Linked DNA regions of Homo sapiens: regions 1 and 3 are each linked to region 2. Evidence: fine-mapped expression QTL. A gene starts in region 2. Each other region holds a variant in brackets. All regions are shown on one strand. Distances are from middle to middle.

Region 1 (8,179 bases), 900 kb after region 2:
CCTTTTAACCACATGTGGCAAATTTGTAAAAAGAAAAAAACAAAAAAAAAAAACCAAAAAAAGAAAAACAACTGGCCACATATTAGGCCATAAAGAAGTCTCAACAAAATCCACTATACTATTGACATTGTCCAGACCAGATTTTCCTGACCATAATGCAACAAAATTAGAAGTCAACAGCAAGAAGATAGCTAAACACAAGCATACATTTGGAAAATTAAAAATATCCTTTCATGAGTTAAATGAAAAATTACAATAGAAATTACTAAACATTTACAACTGAATGAAAACACAACTTTATATATATATGTATATTTTTTTTTGTGAGTCTTCCAACTTTGTTCCTCTTCTACAAGGTTATTTGGGAAATTCTGGGTCTCCTGCAGTTCCTCATAGAGTTTTATGCTGTTTGTCAATTTCTGTGGCTGGGATGAACTTATCGTAGTTCTCATAGACCAGGGTTTGCATGTCGCTGTCTAGAGCCCGGATCTGCTGCACCATGTCCGTCTCACTGTCCATCAGCTGGGCCAGAGGGCACTCTCTAGGCAGCTTGTCTAGTTAAACTTCCGGGTCGAAGTGTGCCCCATTCAGATCAGTGGGGTCCAGGGGGTCGGGCCCAGCGGGGAGTCCCACCGCCTCCCATTCTGAGAGGCCGTTGTAAAGCTTTAGCATCCTGTGCGCCTTCCGCCGACGCTCCGTGAACCTCCCCACCGGGGCCTTCTGCGGAGTCCCCAGGTCCACACCCCGGGCTAGGCCCAGTGACAGCTGCCGCCGCCATAGCTCTAACTGCAGCCCACGGGCGTAATTTTTTTTTTTAAGTTGGATACATGGAGCTACTTGGCTTTTGCTTTCATCATATCGTTGAGGAAAGAGGTGGTTGCTTATGGTACCCCTGTTTTTACTGCAACCTGTAATGGATGAGAACCTCCCTGTTGCAGAGAGCAAAACACTGAACTAAATTGTGCTGTAACACAGCCCTGTGTTGGGGGATTGGGAGTGATCATGCAAACGCTTGCAAATTTGCACAGAGACAGAGACAATCACTGTCTCTGTCAGTGTGATTTGGGCAGCTGTTCACTATATGAAAAGGCAATTGACCAAAAGTCAGTTACCGAGCTATCTCAATACTTTCATTTTATTTTAACTTTTGGCAGCAGGGTACAATTAAAGGAGAGAAAGAAAACAAAGTGATAAGTGTAAGATAATGTACACACGTGTGTAAAAGAAAGTGACAAGACAGGATGACTGTTTGTCTCTTAGTTAGCTCCTTGGGCTCTATGTCTCCTTCCTCAGAGAACCTCATTTTCCTTTGTCCAGATGTGTTAGGGTGGATAATCCAGGCGTCTGCTCCCCCATGATGGAAGCCAAAAACATCCCTGGAGCCGCCTCCCGCTGCACCCTTTCCTGCACTGCCCACATGGACACAACTCAGCCGATTAGACTTCCTCTCAGAACTTTAGTCTTGAGCAAAGGGATTAAAGGGCGAAGTGACTGAAGGTATGCCCTTCCAAAGTGGTACGTGAGCTAATGGCTAAAGTTTGCCAAGCCCATCCAAGCACATTGTTTCATAATTTTTATTTATTTATTTTTTTAAGACAGAGTCTTGCTGTGTTGCCCAGGCTGGAGTGCAGTGGCGTGATCTCGGTTCACTGCAACCTCTGTCTCCCGGCTTCAAAGGAGTCTCCTGCCTCAGCCTCCCCAGTAGCTGGGATTACAGGCATACGCCACCGTGCCTGGCTAATTTTCTTCTTTTTTTTGTATTTTTAGTAGAGACAGGGTTTCACCATGTTGGCCAGGCTGGTCTCGAATTCCTGACCTTGTGATTCGCCTGCCTCAGCCTCTCAAAAGTCTGGGATTACACGTGTGAGCCACCGCGCCCAGCTTCCAAACGATTTAAGCAGAGCTCAGAGGTCTTAACCACAGGCACATCGGAGGAGCATTTTTGAAACACTTTCCAGATTCCTCAATAGGAATGGAAGCCAAACGCTGAATTGATGACTCCTTTGAGGAAGTCAAGAACTGTAAGGAAAGCCAGGAACAGGGACAAGGGAGATATGCGTCCCGAATGATCCTGTGCCAATTCCTTCTGGAATCCTCGATGTGATCTCAGCTGCCCCTTCTAAACATGACACAGTGATTGTGGCACCCACTGGTCTAGCTGTGGTCTACAATGAACCTCCAAAGGGAAGAGCAGAGTGAGCAGGGGCATCGGCCTGAGTGACAAGGATTTGAGAGGGCAGGTTGGATGCAGGGAGAGGACTGGCCAAATGCCATGTGTCTGGACTTAGACTGCCTGGTTCAAATTGGACTTCACCCTTTCTGACTTCGTGATCTGGTACAAGCTACATGAAAATCCGTTGCTCCTTTTCTAGTCTGTAAAATCATCATGAAATGTGAACTAATAACATGGAGACTATGCAGATGAAATGAAACAAGCTGCATAGAGCACAGAGCTCAGAGCCAGGCCTTCAGTAAGCCCTCAGTAAGGGTTCATGATGCCATGGTGTCTGTCGTCATCCTCTTTATCCTCATCACCTTCATAATCTCTTTTTTGTTCTTAGGGAATAGTTTAGAGGGACTGATTCCCTGCTATCATGGGTGAGATGTCTATAAAAAGGACAACCAGTGGGGGAGGAAAGCAAAATTTTGAATAAGATTTCTGAGACCCCCACCACAACCAAGAACAGAAATTCCAGTATGCTGAGCACAGAGTTTGCATATTGCTCTCCTCACATCTGCCCACCGCAGTCTCCAGTACGTCCTAAGGATGAGGAAACAAACAAGGTTCCCGACCGTCCCTCAGCACTCACTTGAAGGGGTGGCCTGTCCCTCCACACCTGTGGGTATTTCTAGTCAGGTGGGATGAGAGACTGAGAAAAAAAGTAAGACACAGAGACAAAGTGTAGAGACACAACAGTGGGCCTAGGGGACCGGCGCTCAGCATACCAAGGACCTGCACCGGCACTGGCCTCTGAGTTCCCTCAGTTTTTATTGATTATTATTTTTATTATTTTAGCAAAAAGGAATGTAGTAGGAGTCAGGGTGATAATAAGGAGAAGGTCAGCAACGAAGATGTGAGCAATAGAATCTATGTCATCATGAAGTTCACGGGAAGGTTCTATGACTGGACGTGTACGTAAGCCAGATTTATGTTTCTCTCCACCCAAACATCTCAGCGGACTAAAGAATAACAAGGCAGCATTGCTGCCAACATGTCTCACCTCCCACCATAGGGCGGTTTTTCCCCCATCTCAGAATTGAACAAATGTACAATTGGGTTTTATACCGAGACATTCAGTTCCCAGGGGCAGGCAGAAGACAGCGGCCTTCCTCTCTCAACTGCAAGAGGCTTTCCTCTTTGACTAATCCACCTCAG[T/C]ACAGACCCTTTACTGGTGTTGGGCTCGGGGACGGTCAGGTCTTTCTCCTCCCATGAGGCCACTTTTCAGACTATCACATGGGGAGAAACCTTGGACAATATGCCGCTTTCAAGGGAAGTGGTCTCTGCGGCTTTCCACAGTGTATTGTGCCCCTGGTTTATTGAGACTAGACAATGGCGATGACTTTTACCAAGTATACTGCTTGGAAACATCTTGTTAACAAGGCACGTCCTGCACAGCCCTAGATCCCTTAAACCTTGATTTCATACAACACATGTTTTTGTGAGCTTCAGGTTGGGTCAAAGTGGCTGGGGCAAAGCTACACATTAACAACATCTCAGCAAAGCAATTGTTGAAAGTACAGGTCTTTCTCAAAATGGAGTCTCTTATGTCTTTCCTTTCTACATAGACACAGTAAGAGTCTGATCTCTCTTTCTTTTCCCTACACTCACTGAACTGCCCTTCCCCTCTGCTGGGCCATGACCATGGAGAACAGGTCCACTGTCCTCCCTGTGTGGTGCAACATGGAGGCTCAGACTCCATCCTCAAGGCTGGCAAGAAGACAGGGTGAGACGTGAGCCTCTTGATACAGGTGACGGGAGTGGAGCCCACAGGACTGGAACCTCACACTACAGGGCTGGAGGCACAGACTGACTATTTACTATTTTGTGGCCTGGGGGGCTCAAGGCACAGAGCTCCTTATTAGCCAAAGTCACCCAACTTCCCCAACCTCTAAGGATTTCCTCATAATAATGCAAGAAGAAGAAGAGAAAAGTGAGTGTCCATAGAAGCTTTGGGGCTCTTCCTCTAATCAGGAGAAAGCTGGTGTGTATTCTTCGCTTCTTTCTTTTCTTTTTAAACATCCAACTGCTTTAATTTTCATCTTTTATTATGGGAAAATATACCTCGTATAAATATTAAAAATTATAAATATATATTAGTTCATATAGAATGGCCAGTATAAACCTTTACAGTTTCCATGCTTTTTCACTTTACAGTTTCATGACATGAAGTACGTTCACATTGTTTAGCAACCATCACCATCATCGTCTCTGGAACAGTTTTATCTTTCAAAATGGAAATTGCACCCATTCACCAAGCTCTCCACTCCTCTCTCTCGCCCGCCCCTAGGGGCCACCTTTCTAGTTTGCAACTCTATGAATTTAACTACTCTAGACACTTGATAGATAAGTGGAATCATACCGTGTTTAATTTTTTTGTTTTGGAAACAGAGTCTTTCTCTGTCACCCCGGCTGGAGTGCAGTGGCGTGATGTCACCTCACTGCAGCCTCCACATCATGGGTTCAAGCGATTCTTGTGTCTCAGTCTCCCGAGTAGCTGGGATTACAGCTGTGCGCCACCACGCCCAGCTAATTTTTGTATTTTTAATAGAGCCCATATTGGCCAGGCTGGTCTCGAACTCCTGACCTGAAGTGATCCGCCTGGCTCAGCCTCCCAAAGTGCTGGGGTTACAGGTGCGAGCCACTGAGCCTGGGAGTGTTTATCCTTTTGGGATTTATTTATTTCACTGACGATAATGTTTTCAAGGTTCATCCATGTTGCAGCCTGCGTCAGAAGTGCCTCTCTGTTTTTTTTTTTTTTGTTTGTTAGTTTTTTCTTTGTTCGTTTGACTTTGTTTTGTTTTGTGTTTCCATGGAATCTCACTCTGTCGCACAGGCTGGAGTGCAGTGGCACAATCTGGGCTCACTGTAACCTCCGCCTCCCGGGTTCCAGCCATTCCTGTGCCTCAGCCTCCTGAGTAGTTGGGACTATAGGCACACGCCACCACGCTCGTCTCATTTTTTGCATTTTGAGTAGAGACAGGGTTTCACCAAGATGGCCAGGCTGGTCTTGAATTCCTGACCTCAGGTGATCCGCCCACCTCGGTCTTCCAAGACGCTGCGATTACAGGTGTGAGCCACCGCACCGGCCAGAAGTGCCTGCTTTTTTAAGGCTGAATAGTCTTCCATTGTATGAAGGAACTGCAGTGTGCTTTTTCATTCATCTGTCCACGAACCCTTGAATTGCTTCCACATTTTGGCTGTTGTGAATAATGCTGCTATGAATATGGGTGTACACAAATCTGTCTTCCACTCCTGGCTTCTAATTCTTTTTGGTAGGTACCCACAAATGCAACTGCGGGAACATCTGATCATTCTGTTTCTAATTTTTCAAGCACACACCATACTATTTTCCCCGTTCCTTCACGGTTTTACATTCCCTCAAATCACATTTGAGCATTCCTACTTCCCTCTAGTCTCACCAATGCCTGTTTGTTTATCATATCCATTCTAATGTGTGGTATCACATGATTGGTTTGATTTGCGCTTCCCTATGATGAGTGATTTTGAACATCATTTTAGATGCTTATTGGCCATTGCTATATCTTCTTTAGGGACACATCTACTCGAGTCTTCTGGCCATTGTTGATGGGATGCTTTGGGTTTCTTGTGGTTTAGTTCTAGCTGTTCTTCATATACGATGGATATCAGCCTCTTTTCAGATATATGCTTTGCAAATATTGTTCCTAATCCTTGGGTTATCGTTTCACTCAGTTCACAGTGTTTTTTGCTGCACAAAAGGGTCTGTCATTTAGATGTAATCCAAGGAATCTAATTTTGTTGCCTATGCTTTTGGTGTCATATCCCAGAGAACATTGCCCAATCTGATGTCATGAAATTGTGGCCAATCTTTTCTTTTAGGCGTATGATACTTTTGGCGCTTAGGGTGAGGTCTTTGATCCAGTTTGCGTTAATTTTTGCACCTGGTGTGACATAGGGTCCACCTTCAGTCTTGTGCTTATGGAAATCAAGTTTCTCCAACACCATTTCTTGAAAAGGCTGCTTTCCACCAATGAGCTTTCTTAGCACTCATGTGAAAAACCATTTGAACATATAGGTGAGAAGTTATTTCCGGGCTCCAAAACAAACAAACAGCAAGAGACAACAGATCAGGATACAGCATGGGCCGGGCGCGGTCACTCACGCCTGTAATCCCAGCACTTTGGGAGGCCGAGGCGGGCAGATCACCTGAGGTCAGGAGTTGAAGAACAGCCTGACCAACAGGGAGAAACCCCCGTCTCTACTAGAAATACAACATTAGCTGGGCGTGCTGCTGCATGCGTGTAATCCCAGCTACTCGGGAGGTGGAGGCAGGAGAATCGCTTGAACCCAGGAGGCAGAGGTTGCGATGAGCCAAGATTGCACCGTGACACTCCAGCCTGGGCAACAAGAGCGAAACTCCATCTCAAAACAAAAAACAAAATCAAAAAGCCAGCATCATTTCAGTAGCAGAAAGAGAAGAGCTTAAAAACCAGTATAATGAGAAAGTTAGGAAGCTTCTTACCAAAGCATCTGGAAATATGCAAGCAATTTTTGTGAACTAAAATTTTCATACTGTACTATCAAACACTAGAACTCACTTATTCCATCTTTCAGTATTTTGGGACCCAATTATCCACTTGTCTTCATTCCGGATTCCACCCCTTTGCTTCCTAGCATCTGCTAATCACCTTTATAGTTTCCACCTTCCTGAGATTCCTTTTGTGTGTAGGTGTGTGATGGAGTCTCTTTCTGTTGCCCAGGTTGGAGTACACAGGCACAATCCGGGCTCACTGCAAGCTCCGCCTCCCGAGTTCAAGCGCTTCTTGGGCCTCAGCTCTCCGAGTAGCTGAGACTACAGGCACGCGTCACCACGCCCGGCTCATTGTTTGTGTTTTCCGTAGAGACGGAGTTTCATCATGTTGGCCAGGCGGGTCTCGAACTCCTGGACTCAAGTGATCCGTGCGACTCGGCCTCCCACAGTGCTGGGATTACAGGTCTGAGCCACCACACCTGGCCAAGGTTTCCTTTTTTCTTTCTACATAGAAGTGAGGATGTGAAATATTTGTCATTCAGTGCTGGGCTTATTTCATTTAATATACATACTTGCAATCTCATCCATTTTGTCCGCAGCGGAGAGGAGTTTCTTCCTTTTTAGGCTGAATCATACTTCACCGGGTGTGTATACCACAGTTTCTTAATTGAAACAAATTTCTGAAGAGCAAATATTTTTAAAATGTCTCAGAATGTGAAACTTCAGGGATACTGTGCCCATTTTATTCTTTTCTATTTCCCATCTTATGTATATGCAAGTGTATAACAAAGCAGCAATCAATGTGTGTATAAATCTATAACTTTAACAAATGTAAAATGTAAATGCTAAGTGGTGTCTGGGCGCGGTCGTTCATGCCTGTAATCCCAGCACTTTGGGAGGCGGAAGCGGGCGGATCACCTGAGGTCGGGAGTTCAAGACCAGCCTCACCAAAATGGAGAAACACTGTCTCTCTCTTAACAATACAAAAAAAAAAAAAAAAAAAAAATTAGCCAGGCATGGTAGCGCATGCCTGTAATCCCAGCTACTTGGAAGGCTGAGACAGGAGAATTGCTTGAATATGGGAGGCAGAGGTTGCAGTGAGCCGAGACCGTGCCATTGAACTCCAGCCTGGGCAACAAGAGTGAAACTCTGACTCAAAAAAAAAAAAAAAGGAAAAGGAAGAAAGAAATAGAAAATGCGAAATGGTAAGAAAAAACAGCATAATAAACATTTGTATGGTGTTGATGGACAATGCATTTGAAGATAATATTTGAAGAAATCATATTACAATTAATTTCTGTTCTTACTCATTGGAGCTTGATGCCTCTAAAAACTTTGTCATTGGAACCACCTCTGGTGCTTTAAAAGAAAAAAAATCCACATACTCACACAGGTACAAGGAAATCAGAATCTCGGGTATTGAGACCCAGGCCTCATCATGTGTAAGC
Region 2 (8,179 bases):
CAAAAGTAAGTCATGGAAACTTTATTTTAAGCATGTTCAAAGTTTTCTGACAACCCTAAGAAAGAGGCAGAGCAAAGACCATTAGTCCCATTTCACAGATGAGGAAGCCTGAGGCTCCAAGGAGAAAAAAAATGAATTGCCCAAGTCTGTGGCAGGGTTGAAGCAAGACTCAGAACTTCAGACTCCTAGTCCAGTGCTCTCTGTCAGAGACTCCACAGTATGCAAGATAAGCAGCACTCAGATTCACTTTATAAGTCCAGTTCTCATAGCTACAGTCAAATGCATCCACAAGAACACTGGAAATGATCACCATATACAAAGCCTTACTGACTCGTACAGCAGTGTCTCTGAGCCGTTTGGGTATATCTACACGTTTTGGTTAATAATAAACCAAACACCCTAAAACTCTTTAACTGTCAACCCCAATCTTTCTAAAATGCCCCATTCCACATTCTTCTCTCAGTGAATGCAATGGCCACAACTGCATTTTTATTAGATCCATTCACTTTCAGAATCTCACGGTCATCTTTATGAACTCAGAGCAAATCAGAAGGGTGGTCAAGTAAAAATGAAGACTGGGCTTAGGAGCCAGCCAAACCCTTGGTTTTGCCACAGAGTTGTAAGTGACCTTGGCCTCAGCTTTCTCTCTATAAAGGAACCAATTAACAGGCACATATTGGACACCATGTGTTTGACACTGGCCCACTGGATCCCTGTGTCTTCAAGGAGCTTACCTTCTATAGGGGCAGACAGAAAAAAACAGTTAATTTGAAGCTGTGGTAAGTGTTATGACCAGATACAATAGAGTTACAGAATAGAGGACCTGGGAGATCAGGCAAGGCCTCTCTGAAGATGTGGCATTTGCGTTGGGACCTGAATGATGAAGTAGCAGTTACGTGGGGATCTAGAGGCAGAGTATGATGGGCACGGGAAGAGATGCAAAGGTCCTGAGGCAGGGGTAAGCCCACCATGTTGAAGGGCTAGTGAAGCTGGAGAGCAGGCAGTGAAGGGTAGAGATGGGCCTCTGTCTGCCTCTCCAACTTTGTCTCCTTCCAGAGGTCCATCTCTTTGGGGAAGGTGTTTGGAGGTTATTCTGGTTGTAATGGGAAGTGGCTACAGAAATAAAGTAATTTGATTAAATCTGTGATTCTCAAATGTTTCGGTTTTTTTAGCAGGAGAATTCTTTAGTCAAATAACAAGAATTTCAACCTACAACTAGATAAAGGTATTGCTCTGACTGGTTGGGAAGCTAGTTAAAGCCCTTCTGACCCTCTCTCTGACCTCTTGGCTTTTCTCCTTACCTTTCAGTACCTCCAAGCTCACAGGAGCTAGAAAACCACCAGGTGATCCATCTCTAAGCTTCCTGAAGCTCTAATAAAACCCAGCATCATTGTAAAGAATCACAGGGAAAGCTTTAGGATATAAGACTGGATGCTTGCTGGACAAGCATCTCGGGCTTCCCAAGACAGGCCCTGAGAAGGTTTATTTTATTTTATTCTAAATAGATACCACGTCTCACTATGCTGGCCAGGCTCATCTCGAACTCTTGACATCCAGCAATCTTCCTGCCTCGGCCTCCCAAAGTGCTGGGATTGCAGGCATGAGCCACTGCACCCGGCCCCTGGAAAGGTTTTACACTGAATCCCTGATGTGCACTTGCTTTCCACAGAAAAAACAACAATAAGCTCTGGTTCATCAAGGCTTTCAGTTAAAATCACACTGCTGAAACTACAGAGACAAAAAACAGATCGGGGGTTGCCACAGGATGAGGTGAAAGGAACTGACTACAGAAGAACAAAAGAACTTTCTGGGTTGGTGGAAAAATTCTCCATCTTGATAGTGATGTGGCTGCTTGTCTGTGTAAGTTTGAGAAGTTCATAGACCTGTAACACCTCAAGTGGTGAAGGTTTACCGTGTGTAAATTAGACCTCAAAAAACTTGACTTAAAATCACATTGCCAAAAGACTACTCAGAGGCACTTTACAGATGGAGGAGGGAAAATGGCTTGCTCCTGCTGCGGCAGCGGACCCCAGGAAGCCTGACTCGAAGGACAGTGTTCCCTCAAGTTCACGGCTGCCCAGCTTTAATTTGGAGCCTCTGCAGTGAGTTAGACTTCAGGTTTTCCTGCCGGCAAAATGAGGTGGTAAACAATTGCCAGAGGCTTCCCCACCACAGACAACGGGATTCTGAAAAGCTGTCCACTATGGGGGAGAAATCTGCTTTGGAGTCAGAAAAACTGGGAAAAATATTCCCACCTCTATCACTTCTTAGCTGTGTGCCCAGGCTCCATCCTGTGTGAGCGGGGGTAAGAATTCCCTCCAGTCAGCAGAGAATGCACCTGTAACCCAGCTGATTCCCAACAGCCTCTCAAGAAGGTCAGCGGCTATAACTTGGAGAGGTGTTTACCACAGCTACACAGCTCTTCTGCTCCCTGGGCCCCGGGCTGCTTCCTAGGAAGGACAATCTGGAGGCAACCATAAGGAAAGAAAATAACGAACTGCCTGGCCCTGCATTGCATAACCCGTGCGCAGTAAACCAGGAGCTCTGCTGGGACACAGTCTGTTATCTCAACAGGTAAACAGGAACCCTGCCCCCTCCCTGACCACCGTCAGCACTGGGCCACCACAGACACTCCAGACACAGACCGATAGCACATGAGGAGGACACCACTGCTCTTTAGCCTGTATTTTCACACTCCCATTTCCCTGCAGCTGCTGGCATCATCACTGGGCACACTCAATAACGGACACTCCACCCACTCCAGCCCTTCCCTGGCTACCTGCTCCAAAAGGGTGGTCCCGAGTGACTCAAAGCTGCCTTCTGCACCTTGCTCTTTTCCATCCACGGAGACCAAAACACAGACCCCAGAAGACGATTAAAATATAATAATAATAAAACCCCTCAGGCAGGAGTTTCTGCTTCCCCGTCACATCTACTGAGAGGCACTGTGGACACATAAAGACTGTTGACTTACTTTTTTCTCCACCTTGGGGCAGGAGGGAGGCAACACCCAGAAATTATCCCAATTTTATAGAAACAAAGACAAAGAGCTACATATCCTAGCCAAAGGCAACAAGGAGCAGGCCTAGAGCCACCCGGAGAGGCAGAGCCCAGCAGCAGCAAGGCTCCAGTGACTCCCATCTCCCTGGCAGAGATCGTCCCAGCCCTGTGCCCTGAGGGTGTCCTGAAGATCATGGGGGCTCGAAACCATGAAAGCAAGCAAAGATTTCTGTACAGTGCGGTTCAGAAAAGTTACTGAGTGCCTTCAGCCCAGGATCTCCTGGTTGATTAGGGAGTACTAACACCTAGGTTAAGAAACTCTGATTTCATTCATCACAAATATTTATCAAACCACTGCCAGGACATTGTGGCAACCACATCCTGCTGTTTTTATTCGGAGCCATTGCCAAAGCTTGGTTCTCTCCCCCACCTTCCGGTATCTGTGAAGTTTTCAGTTTCTATCAAACTCCAGCTGGGGGAGGGAACCGGGGCTGGCCCTAGTCGAGTAAAGTTCCACCACCAGGTCCACAAAGAGACTGCAGGGAGGCGTGGCCAGGCCGGAAATTCTGACAAAAAGTTTTGGCCCTCTGGTCCTAAAAGCAACTACTTCCTGATCGCTCCTAGTCCTGGGGTGGGGATGCAGTTCTCTGGCTGAGTGCCCCGCCGGTGGGCTGAGCTGGGGGCTGCCATCGCGGTGGATGGAGGTGGGGGGTCTGATCTCCGCACTCCAAGGCGCTCCGCTAGTACCTGGAACAGGGGAGTCTAACCCCCTGCCTTCCAATGGCTAAAGTTATTTTGGAGCACAGTCCCCTCCTAGGGTGTGAGCTCCGGAGGGCAGGGCCGCCTCCTCCACACTCCCTCGCCCCCCCCCCCCCCAGCAACCCACGGCCGGCGCTTTGAGGACTTGAACCCGGCCCAGACCCCGGGGCCCAGGCCTGCTCCGACCCGAGGAAGGAAAAAGGGGAAGCCAAAGGAAACTTCAGATGGACGCGGGGTGCGCTCGCCGCGGCCAGGGGCTCCGCTGCCCCCGCCCCACCCTCCGAGGGAGCGCCTTCCAGGGGCCCTGGCCGGCCTCCCACCTTGACCCGCTTGCCCTGGATCTCCAGCGTCTTCATGGTGAAGTCGACGCCGATGGTGCTTCCCTGGCGCTCCGAGAAGGCGCCGGTCTTGAAGCGCTGCACCACGCACGTCTTGCCCACGCTTGCGTCGCCCACCAGCACCAGCTTGAACAGGAAATCGTACTGCTCGTCCGGGTCCCCCGGGCCTGGGCCCGGCCCTGCCATGGCCTAGAAGAAGCCGAAGGGCCGGCGCTCTGGACGCTGGGACCGGCCTGAGCTCACGCAAGCCGCGGGCCGAGCTCCGCCCGCTCCAGCCCACGGGCCGCCTGGCTACGTGGAGCCGCCGCAACACCTGAACCCCCAGCACTGCCGACCGCCTGCCTCGGCCTCGGCCCCGCCCCACCCCGGCTGGCTCCCGCCCCGGCCCGGCTCGGCCCCGCCCGGACCCGGTGCCCCGCGGGTTCGGCTCCCCCCCGGACCCGCCAAGCCGGGCCCTCCGCAAAGCTCCGGCCGGTCCTCAGCTCCGTGCCACACCAGTCTGGCCTGTAGGCCCGCCCCAGCCCGCCCCCGCCCGCCCCCGGCTCCGCCCTCAGGCTGGCACCCACTCCGCCCCCAGCCCAACCCTCGGGCCCACCTCAGCCCGACCCGGGTTCCGCCTACGTCCCCGCCCCCGACTCCGCCCTCAGCTCCGACCTCGACTCCGCCCCCAGGCCCACCTCAGCGCGCCCCGACTCCGACCCGACTCTGCCCTCAGCCCGACCTCGACTCCGCCCACAGGACCACCTCAGCCCGCCCCGACTCCGCCCTCAGCCCGAACTCGACTCCGTCCCCAGCTCCGACCTCGACTCTGCCTTCAGGCCCACCTCAGCCCTCCCCGACTCCGCCTTCAGCCCGACCTCGACTCCGCCCTCAGGCCCACCTCAGCACACCGCCCCGACTCCGCCCACAGGCCCACCTCAGCCCGCCCCGACTCCGCCCTCAGGCTCACCTCAGCTCTGACTCCGCCCCACCCGACTCCGCCCTCAGCCCCGACCCCAGCCCGACCCCGCCCTCAGCACCTCGGCCCCTCCTCCATCAACACCCCGGCGCGCCCACACCGCGGATCCGTCTGGCCCCCAAACCGCTGCCCACCCCGACCCTTCATCAGCTGGGACCCCCAGGTGCTGTCCCGCGCCTCCTGCTCGCCCCCCACCCAGGCCTGGTCCGCCTGCCCGGGATCCCCTACCTGCTGCCTCCCAGACCGCCGGTCAGGGACAGGCGGAGACCATGGCTGGAGCTCCGGGCCTGCAGGCCTAGACTAAGAATGACCCCCTCCGGAATGGATCACGGAGGAAGGGGACGACCACAGCAGTGTCACCTGAGTGCCCACTCTGACAGGCGGGCAGTGCAGTCTCCGAGAGTGGTGGGGGTCGCTCTTCCCAGGGGCGGAAGGGAAGGGAGGGAGCAGGCTGCAGAAGGCCAGAATCCAGGCTGGCTACAAAACTGCGGAGGAGCCCAAAATCCTTGTGAGGAGAGGACCCAGGGCCCCATTTGATGGGAAGCTAGGCCAGAAGGAGGAGCTGGGAGCTCTTGTCTCCAAAAGGCAGCCTAGCAGTGGTTGAAGCAGCTGCTAAACGGCTGGATGACCCAGCTCAGAGCAGCTACAGGCCCATTTGGGAAACTGACCCAGCCAAAAAGCACCAGTCTAGGAAGAGGAACAGAAAAACTTGAAGGGATTTCTGAGGAAGGGCAGACCAACTCCTGAGTTGGCCCAGTGAACCAGGGCGCCTCAGAGAAAGGAGACCCAAACATCTGTAAGAAGCTTATACTAGATCCAACAGGACTGGGCTTCCCAGCTCCGAAGATGGGAAGGAATTGACAGCACCCCTTACCCCTCTAGACAGCTTCCTTGTGGCACTCCAATTCCAGGTATTCAACATATTTAATGAATGGCTACTACAGGCGGGCATTGTCCTGGGGCCTTGTAATGCACCTGTGGACAAAGCAGACAAAAATCCAGGAGAAAAGGGGAAAGTCTTCAAGCTGAAGGAGACTTCGCAGAGAGCAAGTCCCCCAGTGCCACTGTGAGGACCCCAGCCAACCTTTCAGGTCAAGATAGAAAGGGACTGAATGAGCAGTCTGCAAAGGCAGACCCCGTGGAGAAGGCAGAAGAGTTGTTTCTTCTGAAAGTTTGAACTCCACTCCCATGGGAAATACCCAACAGAATCAGACAGGAAACCCCAAAGTGCCACTGAAAAGCAATTGAGAGCCCCACTTTGGTACACCTGATGGGAGCGGAGAGTTAGAGAGGCAGGAAATAACCTCCACTCCAGGGTAGAAGTAGACAGGAGATGGGATGGAAGGTTTCTGCATGCTGGGACTAGCTCAGGTCAAAGTCCAGAACTCCAGAAAACAAGGCCTGCCCCCAGCTCAGAGCAGCTACCACAGCACAAAATGGTGTGGAATCCAGGAGCCAGGATGAAGCGTAGGGGTAGACGGTGGTTGGATAGCTAACTGGCCTTTCCACTGCTCTAGCCTGGAACTGGTTGGGCTGGGGCAGGGGACATGTTGGTCTGAGTATAGATTTTGTCAGAAAACCCAGGCACCACTCCCTTGCCTTTGCGGGGTGATTCTAAAATTGGACTGTGGTAAGGGTTGCACAACTCCTCAAGTTTATTAAAATCATTAAAATGTAAACTTACAACCTGTGGGTTTTATGGTATGTAAATTATACCTCAATAAAGCTGTCTAATATCTGCATTTCCTCTTTTGGTGGTAAATTCCTGAGTAGCACAGTGGCATTTTATTTGAAATGGAATCATGCTAATTTGAAATGCAGCAATTAAAAAATATTTATGTTTCATTTAATACACCAAATTTGAAAAAATGTATATTGCACTTTTTTTTTTTTTGAGACGGAGTCTCGCTCTGTCACCCAGGCTGGAGTACAGTGGCGCGATCTCGGCTCACTGCAAGCTCCGCCTCCCGGATTCACGCCATTCTCCCGCCTCAGCCTCCCGAGTAGCTGGGACTACAGGCGCCCGCCACCATGCCCAGCTAATTTTTTGTATTTTTAGTAGAGACGGGGTTTCACCGTGTTAGCCAGGATGGTCTCGATCTCCTGACCTCATGATCCACCCACCTCGGCCTCCCAAAGTGCTGAGATTACAGTCGTGAACCACCGCACCCGGCCTATATTGCAAAATTTTTAAAATAGGTCAAGAATTTAGTTGCCGGGCACGGTGGCTCACGCCTGTAATCCCAGCACTTTGGGAGGCTAAGATGGGCGGATCACGAGGTCAGGAGATCGTGACCACCCTGGCTAACATGGTGAAACTCCGTCTCTACTAAAAATACAAAAAATTAGCCGGGTGTGTTGGCCGGCGCCTGTAGTCCCAGCTACTCAGAGGCTGAGGCAGGAGAATGGCGTGAACCCAGGAGGTGGAGCTTGCAGTGAGCCAACATGATGCCACTGCACTCCAGCCTGGGCGACAGAGCGAGACTCTGTCTCAAAAAAAAAAAAAAAAAAGAAAGAAAGAAAAAAAAATTGGTCAAGAATTTAACTTTTTTTTTGAGACAGAGTTTCACTCTTGTTGCCCAGGATGGAGTGCAATGGCCTGATCTTGGCTCACTGCAACCTCAAGCAATTCTCCTGCCTCAGCCTCCCCAGTAACTGGGATTACAGGCGTGTGCCACCACACCCAACTAATTTTCGTATTTTTAGTAGAGACAGTGTTTTGCTGTGTTGGCCAGGCTGGTCTTGAACTCCTGACCTCAGGTGACCCGCCCACCTCGGCCTCCCAAAGTGCTGGGATTACAGGCATGAGCCACCATGCCCGGCCAAGAAACATATTTATTTTATTTTATTTTTGAGACACAGTCTCACTCTGTTGCCCAGGCTGGAGTGCAGTGGCGCGATCTCTGCACACTGCAACCTCCGCCTCCCGGGTTCACACCATTCTCCTGCCTCAGCCTCCTGAGTAGCTGGGACTACAGGCTCCAGCCACCATGCCTGGCTAATTTTTTATATTTTTAGTAGAGACGGGGTTTCACTGTGTTAGCCAGGATGGTCTCAATCTCCTGACTTTGTGATCCACCCACCTCAGCCTCCCAAACTGCTGGGATTACAGGCATGAGCCACC
Region 3 (8,179 bases), 87 kb after region 2:
TCATTATGTCTGTTGTAACCTTTAACATATTGATAATAGTTGCTTTATATTTAAATTTTTGTTAATTTATTTAGAGATGGGATCTTGCTCTGTTGCCCAGGCTGGAATGCAGTGGTACAGTCATGGCTCACTACAGCCCTAAACTCCAGGAGTCAGGTAATCTTCCTGCCTCAGCCTCCTGAGTAGTTGGGACTACAGGCAGGAGCCACTGTGCCCAGAGTGTCCTCATACCTTAAATGCACAATTTCTGTTGCTTACAGTCCAATAACCATTACTGAGTGCTATAGAAATACCAAAAAAACATACATTTTGAAAACAGTCAGAACAGGGTTTGAATCAGGACTTTATCTTGGAGCAAGTTCTTCAACCTCTGTGAGCTCAGTTTTCTTGTCTCCAAAACATAGATCATCTTCACATGACTTTGTGAGGCTTAAATGAAATGAGATTGCATATGTAAAAGTGCCCAGCTCAAGCCTAGTATTTACTGGCCACTGAATAATTATTAGTTTCATTCCCCCTGTACCTATATTATACAAAAAACAAAAGAGGCATTAAAATAGACATCATATTTCTTCATGTGAAAAGCTGTTTTATACGGTTTTATACACAGTTTGAATAGGTAGGAATAATATACAAATTCTGATCAAAATCATAAAATAAAGCTAGGAAATTTTAATTAGTTGAAACTTTAGAAAAACTAAGTAAATAAACTAAATAACTGAATAAATTTAGAATTAAAAAGTAGATATTACCCGAATTTTGGTATGTAAATGAATGTAAAAAACATATAGCCAAAATCACATTAGCAAAAATTCTGTTTCTGCATCAGCCCTGAACCTGCATTTGCTTATAAGTAACATGGTAATTTAACAGGATTCATTTAATTCTTGGCTCCTACTAAAGAGACACTGTCCCTGCCCACGGGCTACACTCCAATAGAGAAGAATACAGAACCAAATGCAGTAGAACTCTGGCAAATGATTCAATAATTCATTCTTCAGTTAATAGGGTTGCAAAAAAAAAAAGTACACTCAGCAAACATTTATTGAGAACCTACTGTGTGACAGGCATGTTCCAGGCACTGCAGATGACACAGAGGATCATCTGGCTTATGGAGTTGTTGTTGTTGTTGTTGTTTTTGACACAGGGTCTCTCTCTGTTGCCCAGACTGGAGTGCAGTGGCATGATCTCGGCTCACTGCAACCTCTGCCTCCCAAGCTCAAATGATCCTCCCACCTCAGCCTCCCCAGTAGCTGGGACCACAGGTGTGAGTCCCAGCTAATTTCTGTATTTTTTGTAAAGATAGGGTCTCCCTATGTTGCCCAGGCTGGTCTCGAACTCCTGGCTTCAAGCAATCCACCCACCTTGGCCTCCCAAAATGCTGGGATGATAGGTGTGAGCCACTGTGCCCAGCCTTATGGAGTTTACTTTACCAGGGCTGTGTTTAGAGAGAGCTTTGCCAAAACATAAACACACAAACACTGCCAACGGGAGAATGCCACGTAGTGAGGTAAGCAAACAATGGCAACAACAAAGTTCTCCCGCTCTCAGCCAAGAAAAGCCCAACTCTATGCCTTAGCAGAATGACCAAGTAACACTGTCCTGGACCTTCAGGGTCACCAGAGAACAGGCCAAACTAAGACTGCTTCAGCCTACAAATGACAAGAGCCTACCATACAAGCAGAGTATTCTATGACACCAGGACACGCTAAAGCCATGTGGGCCTCTGTGGTCTAGGTTTGCCTCTCCCTGCAGCCACATGGGCTGTGGAGAGTTTTTGGGAGTTTCCTGCCTTCATGCCCTGCACATACTCTGCCTGGACCACTCTTGTGCTTGCCGTTCCTGCCAACTCCCAGGTGAACCACGCATCCTTGGGTCACAGTCTTTGCAGGCAGTGACCCACACACCCTCAGGAGGAGATGCCCTGGCAGAGCCCCGCCCCCACTCCATCAGGTATGCTATGTACTGGGCTGAAAGGTTCTACAGAAACACATGGGGGCTTCCCCACCAGGATGGCTGCTCCTAGGACAGGACTGGGTCACAAGTATTTTCTGTCTCCCTAGTGCTGGCCTAGAGTAGGTGCTTACAGCCATTTGTTAAATTGAAAGGGACAAGTGTACAAAGGCAGGCTGAGCCTGTCATCAGCCTGGCCACATTGTGTACGTGGCAGAATGATGGCCCTGGATACTGACCCCCTGCGCCCACTGCATCTGACACCGAGTCTGACTTAGAACTTTAATCTGGAAGGATTTTTTTTTTTTAATTTCTAAGTCTCCACCTCACCACTTTTTTTTTTTTTTTTTGAGACCAAGTCTCACTTTGTTGCCCAGGCTGGAGTGCAGTGGCATGATCTCAGCTCACTGCAACCTCCACCTCCTGGGTTCAAGCAATTCTCCTGCCTCAGCCTCCTGAGTAGCTGGGACTACAGGCATGTACCACCATGCCCAACTAATTTTTGTGTTTTTGTAAAGAAGGGGTTTCACCATGTTGGCCAGGCTTGTCTTAAACTCCTAACCTCAAGTGATCCCCCAGCCTGAGCCTCCCTAAGTGCTAGGATTACAGACGTGAGCCACTGTGCCCTGCCCACCTCACTACATTTTAAGTTGATTTTTTTAAAAGGGTCAGTGTTCATTAAAGGAAGACTAAACAGATTTCTGGTTGTTTTTGTTGTTGCTGTTTTAGAGACAGGGTCTCCCTCTGTTGCCCAGGCTGGAGTGCAGTGGCACAATCCTAGCTCACTGAAACCTTGAACTCTTGGGTTCAAGCGATTCTCCCATCTCAGCTTCCCAAGTGGCTAGGACTACAGGTATATACCACCATGCTTGGCTAGCAGATTTCTGTTTTACAAGCCAAGGCCTTCTGCAGCTTTGGAGTGGATTCTCTATCTGAATGTTTTATTGTGGTAAAATATACATAATGGCCGGGCGCGGTGGCTCACGCTTGTAATCCCAGCACTTTAGGAGGCTGAGGTGGGCGGATCACGAGGTCAGGAGATCGAGACCAAGGTGAAACCCCGTCTCTACTGAAAATACAAAAAAATTAGCCGGGCGTGGTGGCAGGCACCTGTAGTCCCAGCTACTCGGAGAGGCTGAGGCAGGAGAATGGCGTGAACCCGCGAGGCGGAGCTTGCAGTGAGCAGAGATGGCGCCAATGCACTCCAGCCTGGGCGACAGAGTGAGACTCCATCTCAAAAAAAAAAAAAAAAAATATATATATATATATATATATATATATACACACACACATACATATACATATATATACGTATATATATATATGTGTGTGTGTGTGTGTATATATATATACACATAACATAAAATTTACCACTTTAAGTGAAGAGTCCGGTGGCACTAAGTACATTCACATTGTTGGGCAACCGTCACCACCATCCATCTCAGAACTTTTTTGTCTTCCTCAACTGAAACTCTGTCCCCATGAAACACTAACTCCCCATTTTCCCTTCCCCCACCCCCTAGCAACTGTCATTCTGCCTTCTGTCTTTATGAATTTGACTACTCTAGGGCCCTCATGTAAGTAGAACCATACAGTATTTTCCTTTTGTGACTGGCTTATTCACTTAGCATGATGTCCTCAAGGTTCACCCATGTTGTAGCTCATGCTCAGAATTTATTTCCTTTTTAAGTCTCTAGTTGAATTCTTATCCCTTCATTTCGCTTCAAATTAAAACAACACAAGTCAGCCCTGATTTTGCAAACAAATGTGCCAAAGTGACATAAAGGCACGATGCAGCCTGAGAGGCCTGTCCACGCTGGCTGCCAGCCACTGTCTCCAGAGGCTGCCTTTGCAAGGATGGTCACTTGGATAAGGGGCTTGAAGCTCTCCCTATTGATGGTGGCTGAGAAGTAGCAGAACGTTAAGTTTTCTTTGCCAAAACAGAATCTAAATTGTGCTGAATCAGAGCAACTATAAACATTGTTTGCTTTTAAATATTTTACTTTATCCAGCAGGCTTTCAGATAATCAGCTTGTGTTCTGGAACTGTCTTTCTGAGAAATAAACACAAATGAGTTGGCAGAGTCCACGTACAAAATATCTCAGGCTGTCCCAGCCTAGGACAAGCCAAGTAAATATAAATCATGGATTTTATAGCATTATATAAATCTTTATAAAAGGAATGCATTAATTGATTCAAGGACATTTGTAGTCTATATGAAACTAGCAATACATAAAATATTTTATGTTTTTTTCTTATACTTTAATATTCTACTCTCTCTCTCTCTCTATATATATATATATATTTTTTTTTTTTTTTTTTGAGATGGAGTCTCGCTCTGTTGCCCAGGCTGGATGGAGTGCAGTGGCGTGATCTCGGCTCACTGCAACCTCCGCCTTCTGGGTTCAGGCAATTATCCTGCCTCAGCCTCCCAAGTAGTTGGGACTGCAGGCGTCTGTCACCACGCTTAGCTA[A/AT]TTTTTTTTTTTTTTTTTTTGAGACGGAGTCTCCCTCTGTCACCCAGGCTGGAGTGCAGTGGCGCGACCTCGGCTCACTGCAACCTCCACCTCCCGGGTCCAAGCGATTCTCCTGCCTCAGCCTCCTGAGTAGCTGGGACTACAGGCGCATGCCACCACGCCTGGCCAATTTTTGTATTTTTGGTAGAGACAGGGTTCCTCCATGTTGGCCAGGTTGGTCTCAAACTCCTGACCTCAGGTGATCTGCCCGCCTTGGCCCCCCAAAGTGTTGGGATTACAGGTGTGAGCCACCGTGCCTGGCCAGCTAATTTTTGTTTTTATTTTTATTTTATTTTATTTATTTATTTTTTTTTTTGAGACGGAGTCTCACTCTGTTGCCAGGCTGGAGTGCAGTGGCACGATCTCGGCTCACTGCAACCTCTGCCTCCTGGTTCAAGCAATTCTCCTGCCTCAGCCTCCCGAGTAGGTGGGACTACAGGCGCACGCCACCATGCCTGGCTAATTTTATTTTTTTATTTTTTTATTTTAGTAGAAACAGGGTTTCACCATGTTGCCCAGGCTGGTCTCGAACTCCTGAGATCAGGCAATCTGCCCGCCTCGGCCTCCCAAAATGTTAGGATTACAGGTGTAAGCCACTGTGCCCAGCCTATTTTATTTTCTTTGAGATGGAATTTCGCTCTTGTCACCCAGCCTGGAGTGCATTGGCGCGATCTCTGCTCACCGCAACCTCTGCCTCCCGGGTTCAGGCAATTCTCCTGCCTCAGCCTCCCAAATAGCTGGTACTACAGGCATCCGCCACCATGCCTAGCTAAGCTTTGTTTTTATTTTTATTTTATTTTATTTTGAGACAGAATTTCACTCTTGTCACCCAGGCTAGAGTGCAATGGCACGATCTCCGTTCACTGCAACCTCCGCTTCCTGGGTTCAAGCTATTCTCTTGCCTCAGCCTCCTGAGTAGCTGGGATTACAGGCTCCCGTCATCACGTCTGGCTAATTTTTGTATTTTTAGTAGAGATTTGAATTCCTGACCTCAAGTGATTGCCCACCTCAGCCTCCCAAAGTGCTGGGATTACAGGTGTGAACCACCGCACCCAGCCCTCCTATATAGATATATTTCATATAATATTTTCTAAGTACAGTAATTTTATCACCTCTTCTAGTCATCAGTTAATCAAACCGAAGTCAAAGAAATAACTGCTGGTGTCTCTAGAAAACAATCCAACCAGGCCAGGCGCAGTGGCTAATGCCTGTAATCCCAACACTTTGGGAGGCCGAGGCGGGTGGATCACTTGAGGTCAGGAGTTTGAGACCAGCCTGGCCAATATGGTGAAACCCCGTCTCTACTAAATTTACAAAAGTTAGCTGGGCGTGGTGGTGGGTGCCTGTAATCCCAGCTACTCGAGAGGCTGAAGCAGGAGAATCGCTTGAACCTGGGAGGCAGAGGTTGCAGTGAGCCGAGATCATACCACTGCACTCCAGCCTGGGCGACAGAGCGAGACTCTGTCTCAAAAACAAAACAGAACAAAACAAAAAGTTAAACATAGACTTACCATATGACCCAGCAATTCTACTCCTAGGTGTATACCCCAAAGAATTAAACACAGGGACACAAACACCAATGGTCATTGAAGCATTAGCATTGTTCACAACAGCCAAAAGGCAGAAACAACTCATGTTCATCAATAGATGAACAGGTACACAAAACACGGTATATACTCTTCAATGGAAGATTACTTGGCCTTAAAATGGAACGAAAATAGGAAATAACAAGTGGTGGCAAGAATGTGGACGAATTGGAACCCTCATGCATTGCTGGTGGGTCTCTCTGGAAAACAGTTTGATGAGTCCTTAAAAATTTAAACCAAACCGCCATATGATCCAGCAATTTCATTTCTACGTATATATTGCAAGGAATCAAAAGCAAGGATTTTAACGGTTTTGTGTATACCAGTCATCATACCAGCATCATTTACAATAGCTGAAAGGCACAAGTAACCCAAACATCCAACAATGGATTAATGGATAAACAAAATGCAGAATGGAGTATTATTGCACACACAATGAGATATTATCCAGCCTTGAAAAGGAATGAGATTCTGACACATGCTGCAACAGGGGTAAACTTTGAGAATTGTATGCTAAGTGAAATAAACCAACTACATATGGACAAATGAGATTTCACTTATATGAGGTATGCGGAATAGTCTAATTCCTTGAGACAGAAAGTACTGGTTGCCAGTGGCTGGGGTGAGAAAGAATGGGGAGTTAGTGTTTAATGAGTACAGAGTATCAGTTTGGGAAGATGAAAAATTCCGGAAATGGAGAGTTGTGATGGCTCACAACAATGTGAATGCACTTAATGCCACTGAATTTTACATGTAAAAATGGTTAAAATGATAAATTCTAAGTTATGTATGTTTTACCACAATAAAAACAAACAAAAGCATGATATTGGCTGGCTGTGGTGGCTCACACTTGTAATCCCAGCACTTTGGAAGGCCGAGGTGGGCGGATCAGGAGGTCAGGAGACCGAGACCATCCTGGCCAACATGGTGAAACCCCATCTGTACTAAAAATACAAAAATTAGCCGAGCGTGGTGGTGGGCGCCTGTAGTCCCAGCTACTCAGGAGGCTGAGGCAGGAGAATCACTTGAACCCGGGAGGCAGAGGCTGCAGTGAGCCAAGATTGCGCCACTGCACTCCAGCCTGGGCGACAGAGCTAGACTCTGTCTCAAAAAAAAAAAAAAAAAAAGCATGATATATTCAGCCCCACCAAAAACCAAAAGGAATGAAATTCTGATACATGGTAGGTACAACACGGATGAATCTTTTTTTTTTTTTTTTTTGGCTGGAGTGCAGTAGCACGATCTCGGCTCACTGCACGCTCCGCCTCCCGGGTTCACGCCATTCTCCTGCGTCAGCCTCCCGAGTAGCTGGGACTACAGGCGCCCACCACCACGCCTGGCTATTTTTTTTTTGTATTTTTAGTAGAGACAGGGTTTCACTGTGTTAGCCGGGATGGTCTCGATCTCCTGAGCTTGTGATCCGCCCGCCTCAGCCTCCCAAAGTGCTGGGATTACAGGCGTGAGCCACCGCGCCCAGCCAACACGGATGAATCTTAAAAACATTTCTAGGTTAAATGTGCCAGGCACAAAAGGACAAATATTGTATGATTCCAGTTATAAGAAACATCTGTAATAGGCAAAATCCAGGGAATTTGAGGCTGCAGTGAACTATGATGGCACCACTGCATTCCAGCCTGGGTAGTCGACTAAGCAAGACCCTGTCTTAAAAAAATAAATAAAAGGGGACAAATTCATAGAGACAGAAAGTGGGAGTTATTGCTTAATGGGTACAGAGTTTCTGTTTGTGGTGATGGAGAAGTTTTGGAAATAGTTATCAGTGATAGTTGCACAATAATATAATTAATGTCACTGAATTGCTGCCTAAAAATGATTAAAATGGCAAATTTTGTTATATACATTTGGCCACCAAAATAAGAAAGAAAACAAACCAACCAGCCCTTCAGTGGCTCTGTAGCTTTGCAGAATGAAAACTCCACAGCCCCATGACTGGCAGGGAGGCCCCATGCTGGCTCCACTCGGCCTCTGCAGCCCTCTCTTCCCACCAGTTGCCTCCTCGGATCCTTCCGGTGCAGCTTCTAGGCTGCTCTTGGCCTGAGTCCAAAGCCGACTGGCCCTGCTCCATGAAGTCTTCCCAGGTTCCCGTTCTAAGAGCCTTTCTCCCTCTTG

Evidence for each region.
Region 1: its variant is fine-mapped to the expression of RAB43 in coronary artery (GTEx, PIP above 0.99).
Region 3: its variant is fine-mapped to the expression of RAB43 in whole blood (INTERVAL, PIP above 0.99).

The regions. Positions count from the first base shown.
Region 1 is chr3:130,012,764-130,020,942 of GRCh38, forward strand. It overlaps the pseudogene VPS51P10. Among named protein-coding and RNA genes, the nearest start is that of TRH, 42 kb to the left of the region's middle. The variant T/C (reference allele first, on the strand shown) is at 3,377.
Region 2 is chr3:129,117,207-129,125,385 of GRCh38, forward strand. It overlaps RAB43 (RAB43, member RAS oncogene family), which reads right to left and starts at 4,598. Exons shown (of 3, transcript NM_198490.3): 1 at 4,080-4,598. The coding sequence starts at 4,283. All of the region lies in intron 11 of ISY1-RAB43 (ISY1-RAB43 readthrough), which reads right to left. RefSeq lists an enhancer at 2,682-3,627 and silencers at 4,408-4,587, 4,608-4,827.
Region 3 is chr3:129,203,776-129,211,954 of GRCh38, forward strand. No RefSeq gene overlaps it. Among named protein-coding and RNA genes, the nearest start is that of CNBP, 24 kb to the left of the region's middle. The variant A/AT (reference allele first, on the strand shown) is at 4,428.